Linked DNA regions of Homo sapiens: region 1 is linked to region 2. Evidence: fine-mapped expression QTL. A gene starts in region 2. The other region holds a variant in brackets. All regions are shown on one strand. Distances are between the middles of the regions.

Region 1 (4,381 bases), 24 kb after region 2:
AGATCAGTGGTTGCTCAAACCTGGGACAGAGCGCACACACGCGCACACGTGTGTGTTAAAAACAACAACAGAAATCAGCTAGAGGTGCATGGTGGCTGCCCTTAGACCTGGCCCGTGCACTCGTTTGCCACAGTCTCCACCATGCCCTGTTACTCCCCGACACTGCACCTAGGGGCCAGGTCCGTTTAGCACAGCACTTCCATCTGTGTTCCTCACACCCTGCTGCTTCCCCTCACCGACTTCACACCTGTCCTGCCCCAGAGGAAGTTAATTTGGTGATGGCCTATGTGAAGACAGTCAGTAGGTGGTTCCCGCCTGGAATCCCAGCACTTTGGGAGGCCAAGACGGGAGGATCACTTGAGCCCACGGGTTTAAGACCAGCCTGGGCAACATGGCAAAACCCTGTCTCTATAAAAAATACAAAACATTAGCCAGGTGTGGTGGCATGAGCCTGTAGTCCCAGCTTCTCAGGAGGCTGAGGTGGGAGAATCACTGGAGCCTGGGAGGTTGAAGCTGCAGTTAGCTATGATCGTGCCACTGCATTCCAGCCTGGGTGACAGAGCAAGATCCTGTCTCACAAAAAAAAAAAAAAAAAAAAAAGGAAAGCAAGGGTGAGTCAATGACAAGAAGGTGTGCAGTGTGGGTGACAAAAACAAGGGGGGAGTCTGCAAGGGGGAGCAGCTTGAGGGGAGCAGAGACTTCAAGGGGAGGAAGCCTGAGTGACTCAGCAATCATTGGGGGACATTAGGGCAGAGGGAGGAAGTACAGGCCGGGTGCGGTGGCTCACGCCTGTAATCCCAGCACTTTGGGAGGCTGAGGCAGGCAGATGACTTGAAGTCAAAAGTTCGAGACCAGCCTGGCCAACATGGTGAAACCCCATCTCTACTAAAAATACAAAAAATGAGCTGGGCGTGGTGGTGCACGCCTGTAATTCCAGCTACTCAGGAGTCTGAGGCAGGAGAATAGCTTGGCCCCAGGAAGTGGAAGTTGCAGTGAGCCAAGATCACACCATTGCACTCCAGCCTGCATGACAGAGTGAGACTCTGTCTTGAAAACAACAACAACAACAAAAAAAAAAACAAAAGAAGGAAGAAGTGCAGGATCCTGGGTGGAACATGTCGGGGTATTCAGGCACCAGGCAGGAGGCCATGACACCCCCCATTCCCCACCAAGGGATTCCTGGTGCCAGTGAGGGCTGAGCCATCAGGGACAGGGACAGGTGCACCCCTTCAGTGGCCATGTCCCTCCAGGCCGGCCTCCCCAGTGCTGCCCCCATGGGCCCCGCCTCTTCCAAAGCTTGCACCCCAGGAGACAATAGAAGCACCTCATCCTGGCATTTAGGGACCCTGGGAATCTGGCCCCACCTTATCCTTCCAGCCTGTACCTGCTGCCTCCGCTTATTCAAGACCTAAGTTTCCTGGTGGCCGTGCCCCCCATGGGGTGGCTGTCATCCAGGCAGGGGTATTCCTGGGGAGCCCTTCCCTTCCCTACCTCCAATGCACCTACAGGGCCCCTACTATTAATAGCAGCACCTCTGCCTGGGGCTCCCTGAGAGGCTGGGGTGGGAGAGGGGTGGTCCAGCAGGCAGTAATCAATGTCCCCAAATGGTGGCAAGTGTGTGTGAATATGTGTGCCGGTGTCTGTGTGTGTGTGTGTGTGTGTGTGTGTGTGTGTGTCTGTTTGTGTTTGTGTGTGTGTGTGGTGGGAGTTTCTGCACTGTGATAGGAGGAAAGCACAAGTGGTTCTGGGATCCAGGGCAGAAGGGGCTCCTCTGTGTCCAGGGCTCAGGGATGCTCCCCAGAGTACCGGATATCTCAGCTAGGACTGAAGGGACAGGAAGTCACTCAGTGCAGGAGAGTAAGGGGGGAACTCTAGGCAGTGGGGACGGTGTGTAGGAAACATGACGGTGTGGAAAATAAAAAGTTCCTCTTCAAAGTTTCCCTTCTTGTTAAAGAATAAATAATAAATGTTAAAAGTAATAGTTTCTTTTAAAGACTAACTTCCTCTTCCTTCCTTATTTGGAAATGTTATTACTTTTCTAAGACCTTTTGCAAGCAACTTCCTCTTTTCCTTTTGTTCTCCATTGCCTTTACCTATTTAGGAAAGTTTTAAGTTGTTAGCCAATTGAGTTTAGCTTAGATTGTGAGGTCC[G/A]TCTCCAAGCAACGAAGAGAGGACACAGCAGTAAGGACCCAGTGTGTAAGGGATAAATATTCCTGCCTTTCTTTATTCATCGTGCTCTTGTGGCAAAATTGCTGATGGGCAGCATCCTTTCTGCAGAAAGTAAAATTGCCTTGCTGAGAAAACTTTTTGTCTGAATGCTAATTTTTCCTTGTGGCACCAAGGAACAAGCATTTTGTTTTCAAGAATCACGTGACCCACCTGGGCACATGGGGTGGTCTGAAAGGCAGGGCTGTGGGGCTGCCCAGGTGAGCCCTGGTGGACAAGGAGAAGGGCTTCCCTCTGAAGCTCTCAGGGCCACCAGCTGGGTGGTGGAGCCCAGAGGTGGCTTTCCCTTGGATCCCTTTGGGAGCCTGAATGGAGGGGTGTGGGTGGGGGAGACTGGAGGCAGTGAGGCTGGTGTGGTGGTAAAGTTCAGTTGAGCCCACTCCCACGTCAGGAGCAGAGTCAGGGTTTGAAGGCTGTGGCCCAGCAAGGGGGCTCAGAACTATTCCACAGTGCCCACGGCCCTCAGAATACAGGCTCAGCTTCTGTCCTGGGACTCGAGCTCTCCCAACCTGGCCCCAGTCCTACCTTCAGACTAGCACATCACTCCAGCAAGACACCCTCGGTCATCCCTGAGCTTTTGCAGAGGCTACCCTCCTGCCCTTGTCCCTACTTACTTAGGCGACCTCTCCTCACACTGCAGGGCTCAGCACACTGGCCTCCAGAAAGCCTTGCTTCATCCCCCACCCAGCACTGACCTGCAGACCATCAGGGTTGTCGGTTAAAGGACCAAAGTCCGGACAGGAGGAAGAGGTTTTGACATCTAGCGCACAGCAGGGTGACCAGAGTCAATGAGAGTGTGTTGCATTTTGCAAAACAACTGAGAGAGTCCGTATCAAATGTCTCTCTGCATTTAGATTGGAGAGGATGAAGGCCCTGAGGTCCAAGAACATGGAAACCTGACAGTGGACGCCAACAGCTGTGGAGAGAAGCCGGGCGACAGCTGTGGAGAGAAGCCGGGCGATATGCTCACGCTTCCGTGTGCCCAGCAATCCTGCTTTATCTTTTTAAATAAAGGTGATTCCTGATAACACTACCGTTTCTTGCAAATTTTGTAGTAGCATTGGAAAGGTGGCAGATGAGTCACAGGCAATCTGCTGCTTTGCGCCCTCCCTGCACAGAATGGGGGCTGTGCACACCCTAGTTTAGGCAGTATGCAGTCATGTGATCCTCTCAGTTACTCAGAAAAACTGAAAGGAAAAGAGACCTCAGAGAAGTATCAGGATGACCCCACCCACAGAAAATCATTACCAGTGGCTCTGAAGGGCTGAGGCTCTGAGCAGGTGCAAGGCAGAGTCCCACACATTGTGCATGGCCTCCCCACACTCACACTGCCCAGTGAGCATTTTCAGAAGGACCAGCGGCCCCTTCAGGTCTCGTCTGACTGTGTTAATCATGCTGAGAGGTCTCCAGGAGGATCCTGAAGTCCTGGGAACCAGACTGTGCTGGGGTTAGAGTGGCATGGGGTCAGAGTGGCTCCCATCAGGGAGCTTCCTCATGTGTTATTAAGAAGTTTGAGGGAGGTCCAGAAGGCCCTGCCCTTGTGCATGGCCGGTGGCTCAGTGTGCACAGCCTAGAACATGCTGTGACCCTGCCCACTACTGATGGTGGCCAGGGACTGTCCTGGAGTTCCACTGGTCAAATACGATTCTCCTTCCCCAATAAAGAGCAGGACCAGGAAGCAAGAAGTGACCTGGGGAGAGGGTGGGAGTGCTGTGGGGCTCCTTGTCTCCCCAGTGTGCTGTTGTCCATAAAATCCACTTTGGGGTTAAGGGTCCCCCAGGTGTGAATACTGAAGAAAGAAGAAAGAAAAAAAGAAAGAAAGAAAGAAAGAGAGAAAGAGAGAGAGGGAGGGAGGGAAAGGAGGGAAGGAGGGAGGGACGGAGGGTGGGAGGGAGGGAGGGAAAGAAACAGAGAGAGAGAAAGAAAATAAAAGAAAGGAAAAGGAAAAAGAAGGAAAGGAAGGTAAGGAAAAGGGAAAGGGGGTAAGGAGGAAAGGCAGAAAAGAAGCTGATCTTTCTCTTTCCTTCTTTCTTTCCTTTCTTCCTCCCTCCCTCCCTTCTCTCCTTCCTTCCTTCTCTCTCTCTCTCTCTCTCTCCTTCTCTTTCTCTCTCTCCCTCTCTCTTAGAACAAGAATTCAAGGGGAGCGCCACGAAGA
Region 2 (4,381 bases):
GATCCATAAATGCCACTCTGAGGAGCTTAAACCTAAGCCCTGAGCCATTATATGTTCTGCACATTTATGAGAGGCATAAGCAGTCTTGCAGAAAAGGGGAAATATTCTACTATCAAGAAGGCCCAGTTTAAAGTAATGGTGGTTGGTCACCAACTAGTCTAGGGCACTGGGGTTCTTCATCAAATTGTAGACTACAGGTCTTTTGTGCTCATAAAAGAGTCCTTCTGCAAGGTGTCCCAACACTGTCAGCGGTCTGTGCTTCTGTTTATCTTAAGATGCAAATGCTCTGAGAAATCTCATTCTTATACACAGTACACAGCACCTACACCATACCAAATCTTAATCAATGCTCATAATTATAACAGTTCTACATCACATGCTAATGAATTTTTAACGTCTAAAATTTTCCTATGCTGCTGATCAGCAATCTATAAGCAGCTCAAAACTCTTCAGAAATTAAAAGGTTACCACCCACAGACCAGAAGCAGCTTTTTAATCTTTCTACACTAGCCAGAGAGTGGGTGATTGCAAAAAAATACAAGCCAACTCTGTTGGTAGAGGACAGGGTTATTAAGTTAAAATCCCATCTATAAGCATCGTTTTGTCACATGACACTAGTAAAACTACCACCTACTCACAATTTGAGTTTCAATCTCCTAATATACAGAGAAAAAAATGTATCTACCTCCTGGAACAAATCAAAGTTTTGTTTTATTTTAAAGCAGCTATCTGATATTTATGCCCTGGATTTTTTTTTTTTAAGAACAGAATAAGCTAATTTAGGAATTCACACCTTTCGTAGAGATGCTTATGGTACAGGTACCTCTGACGGCTAGGCTCTACCAACACTAACGTGTAACGTGTCACAAAAGCCAACGGGCGTTGCGGGGGCCGGGGGTAGCCAACAGCTCAAGTGGGCTGCTTCACTCCGTGGCAGATTCACCTGGGGATTCCTCACCAAGAATGTTGTTAAGGGACGAACCAAACCAACCACAAATGATACCCCTTTACCGAGGCTGAAAAAGCAGAGATTCGCAAGCTATAAACGAATCTCTGGCCCTTTAGGGAAGGTGCAACTCGCTGCACCTCTTTCCCCTATCCTACAGGGGTTAACAGGGGGCATCCTGAGGCCGAGACCAAGCCCAGCCAGCTCCTCCTCACATCCCACCTCCCACTACATATTCTCCCCAGTACGCCGGGCTCCCTCCTCCCCTCGAAAGACAGTTCAAAATCAAAACAATAGGTGCAAAACTGGTTTCAGGTGGAAATGGCTGAGTCCTGGTGGCTAACTTCTGGGACGCCATGGCGATCGAGGGCTCCTAAAACCCCAGATTCCGACGGGAACCGGCTCCTAAACAGTCCCTCGGGCCTCGGCCCGACTTCTCACACGCCCCTCCCTCACCTCGGCCCTGGGATGCTGGGAAGGGAACGAGGCGAGGGGCTGGAGGGGAACCCCAGGTCAAAATGACAGCGGAATGAGCCGGGAAAGGAAAGAGGCCCCGTGGGATGCTGGGGGTCGAGTCCTAGGCCCGGGGCTTCAACCTCGAACGGGGGCGACGGCAGGTCCCAGCCCCGACAGGCCGCGAGCGGGAGGCCAGGCCCGCGTCCGCTGCGCCGCCAGGCCACGCTCCCTCACGACTGTCCCCACCCACCGCGGAGGGCCGTGAGGGGGCCGCGACCGCCGCCAGCGTCCGGGGCGGGGGCGCTCACTCACCGGCGGGGAGGGGAGGAGCAGCCGGCGTCTCCGCCAGCGCCGTCGCTCGAGCTCAAGCGCCTGCTCCTTCCACTGCGGCCGCCGCACCCGGTCCATCCCCCACAACCACCCCCCCCTCCCGACCCTCCCCCCGCGCCGCCTCAGCCGCCGCCGCCTCAGTCACCGCCACCGCCGCCGCCGCCTCAGCCCCGGCGCGGGAGGGCGAACCGGCGCGAGAGAGCGAGCGCGCGCGCGCCCCCGCCACAGCCGCCACCGCCCACAACCTCCGCCCCCGGCCGGCGGCGCACGCGCAAGGGAGCGGGCGGACGGGCGCGCGCACGCCGCAGGGGCGGGGATGGGCCCTGGAAGGCGTGGCCCCTCCCCTAGCCCGCCTTCCCACGCGGTCTCTGGGCTGGTTGAGCTGCGCCGCTGCAGGTAGTGCTGAGTTGCTCCAGGTAAGCTCCTCCTCTCAAAAAGCTCTAGGAACCGAGCCACCCTCGCCCTAGGAGCAACGCCCCTGAGTAATATGGGGTTTCGTCGGATTTCTGCCCGCCGCTCTGGATCACACGTTTGTTCTCCCTATTTGAGTCGCAAGGCCTTCCTTCATTCCACCTAGCAGGCTGCTTGGAAAAGGGCAGAGACTCATTACTTTGCACCAGGTATTACCACTGAAGGGATTGTAAGCAGCCACCAGCCCATCCCTTTATAATTCCCATTTTCCTAATTTATTTTATTTTTATTACTTATGTAATGAGGCTTCTTCCGTGTTCAAGGAGCTGGGAGTACCATATGGGGTCAACGGAGTCCCTGGTCTCATGAAGTTTGAGATCTGGTGGAGAAGGAAAACATTCATGGGAGAATCAGACAAAATTAAGTTTTCAATTAGTAAAAATCTTCTGAGAGGTATATGGTACTAAGAGAATCTTTATGGGGGAATTGATTTAGTTGAGGATGAAGAGGGTAGAATCTGAGGAATTGAGTTGGGAGGAGTTAGTTGCTCCAAGGGGTGAGGTCTTGGCATGGCCAGAATGGGGAGCGCTAAAGAATATTGAATGTGGAGTAGACTGCGAGTGTGGGAAGAGGTAGGCGAGAACAGGTGAGGATTGGGGACCTATTTATTTATTTATTTATTGAGACAGAGTCTCACTCTGTCACCCAGGTCACCCAGGCTGGAGTGCAATGGCTCGATCTCAGCTCACTGCAACCTCCGCCTCCTGGGTTCAAGCGATTCTCCTGTCTCAGCCTCCGGAGTAGCTGGACTACCAGCGCACGCCAGCGCACCTGGCTAATTTTTGTATTTTTAGTAGAGATGGGGTTTCGCCATCTTGGCCAGGCTGGTCTGGAACTCCTGACCTTGTGATCTGCCCGCCTCGGCCTCCCAAAGTGCTGGGATTGCAGGCATGAGCCACCACACCCGGCCGGATTTGGGACTTTAATCTGAGTGCTTGGTAGAAGCTATTCAGGTTTTTTTCAGCAGGGTTGCAGGGGAAATAACTTGATCATTATGTCTGTTTTTTGTTTTTGAGAGGCAGACTGGAGTGCAGTGGCGCGATCTCGGCTCCCTGCAATCTCTGCCTCCCGGGTTCAAGTGATTTTCCTGCCTCAGCCTCCCTAGTACCTGGGACTACAGGTGCACGCCACTGCACCCAGCTAATTTTTTTAGTATTTTTAGTAGAAACGGGGTTTCACCATGTTGGCCAGGATGGTCTGAATCTCCTGACTTCATGATCCACCCACCTCGGCCTCCCAAAGTGCTGGGATTACAGGTGTGAGCCACCTTGCCCCCAGCCCATTATGTCTGTTTTTAAGTTACTTAGATAGCAACGTGAAGAGTGGTCTGATGGGAGTCTCAAAGCTGGGGCCGGGAAGCCAGTTAGGAGGCCACTGGCCACATAGTCAAGGCAAAGTAGGAGGGTAGTGACAGAGAAGAGTGCTAATGTAGTGGTAAAATGGACAGGACTTGGCAATAAATTGAATGAGGAGTGAAGGAGAAGGAGGTGGCAAGGTTTACTTAGATTTGAGGTTGGTGGAGGATGCATTTATAGATTTCAGAAGCACTGAAGGAGCCACCTGAGGTAACTCAAAATGGATGATAAACCTAAATTTAAAAGCTAAACCTATAAAAGAAAATTTTAGAAGAAAACATAGAAAAAGTATTTGTGACCTTGGGATAGGCAAAGACTTCTTAGGACACAAAAAATATGAACCATAAAAAGTGATTCATGGCCTGGCTCACACCTGTAATCCCAGCACTTTGGGAGGCCAAGGCAGGCAGATCACTTGAGCTCAGGAGTTCAAGACCAGCCTGGGCAACATGGCAAAATGCTATCTCTACAAAAAATACAAAAGTTAGCTGGGCTTGTTGGCACGTACCTGCAGTCTCAGCTAACTTGTGGGGCTGAGGAAGGAGGATCACTTGAACCTGGGAGGCGGAGGTTGCAGTGAGCTGAGATGGCGCCACTGCACTCCAGCCTGAGTGACAGGGTGAGACCCTGTCTCAAAAAAAAAAAAAAAAAAAAGAAAGCAATTGATAAGTTGAACTCTATCAAAATTAAAAACTGGTACTCTTTGAGAGACAACATTAAGAAAATGAAAAGGCAAGCCACAGGTGGAGAGTTTGCAATAGAAAGCATTAGACAAAAGTCTTGTATCCAGAATACATAAAGAACTGTTATAAATGAGTAATAA

The links. PIP is the estimated chance that this variant, and not a neighbour inherited with it, causes the effect.
Region 1: its variant is the best candidate, but not a certain one, in a credible set for the expression of TMCC1 in whole blood (INTERVAL, PIP 0.82).

What each region holds. Positions count from the first base shown.
Region 1 is chr3:129,915,320-129,919,700 of GRCh38, forward strand. No RefSeq gene overlaps it. Among named protein-coding and RNA genes, the nearest start is that of TMCC1-DT, 24 kb to the left of the region's middle. The variant G/A (reference allele first, on the strand shown) is at 2,152.
Region 2 is chr3:129,891,780-129,896,160 of GRCh38, forward strand. TMCC1 (transmembrane and coiled-coil domain family 1) reads right to left here and starts at 1,932. Exons shown (of 7, transcript NM_001017395.5): 1 at 1,715-1,932. TMCC1-DT (TMCC1 divergent transcript) reads left to right here and starts at 2,092. Exons shown (of 3, transcript NR_037893.1): 1 at 2,092-2,148. RefSeq lists enhancers at 514-1,306, 1,307-2,098 and a silencer at 1,460-2,189.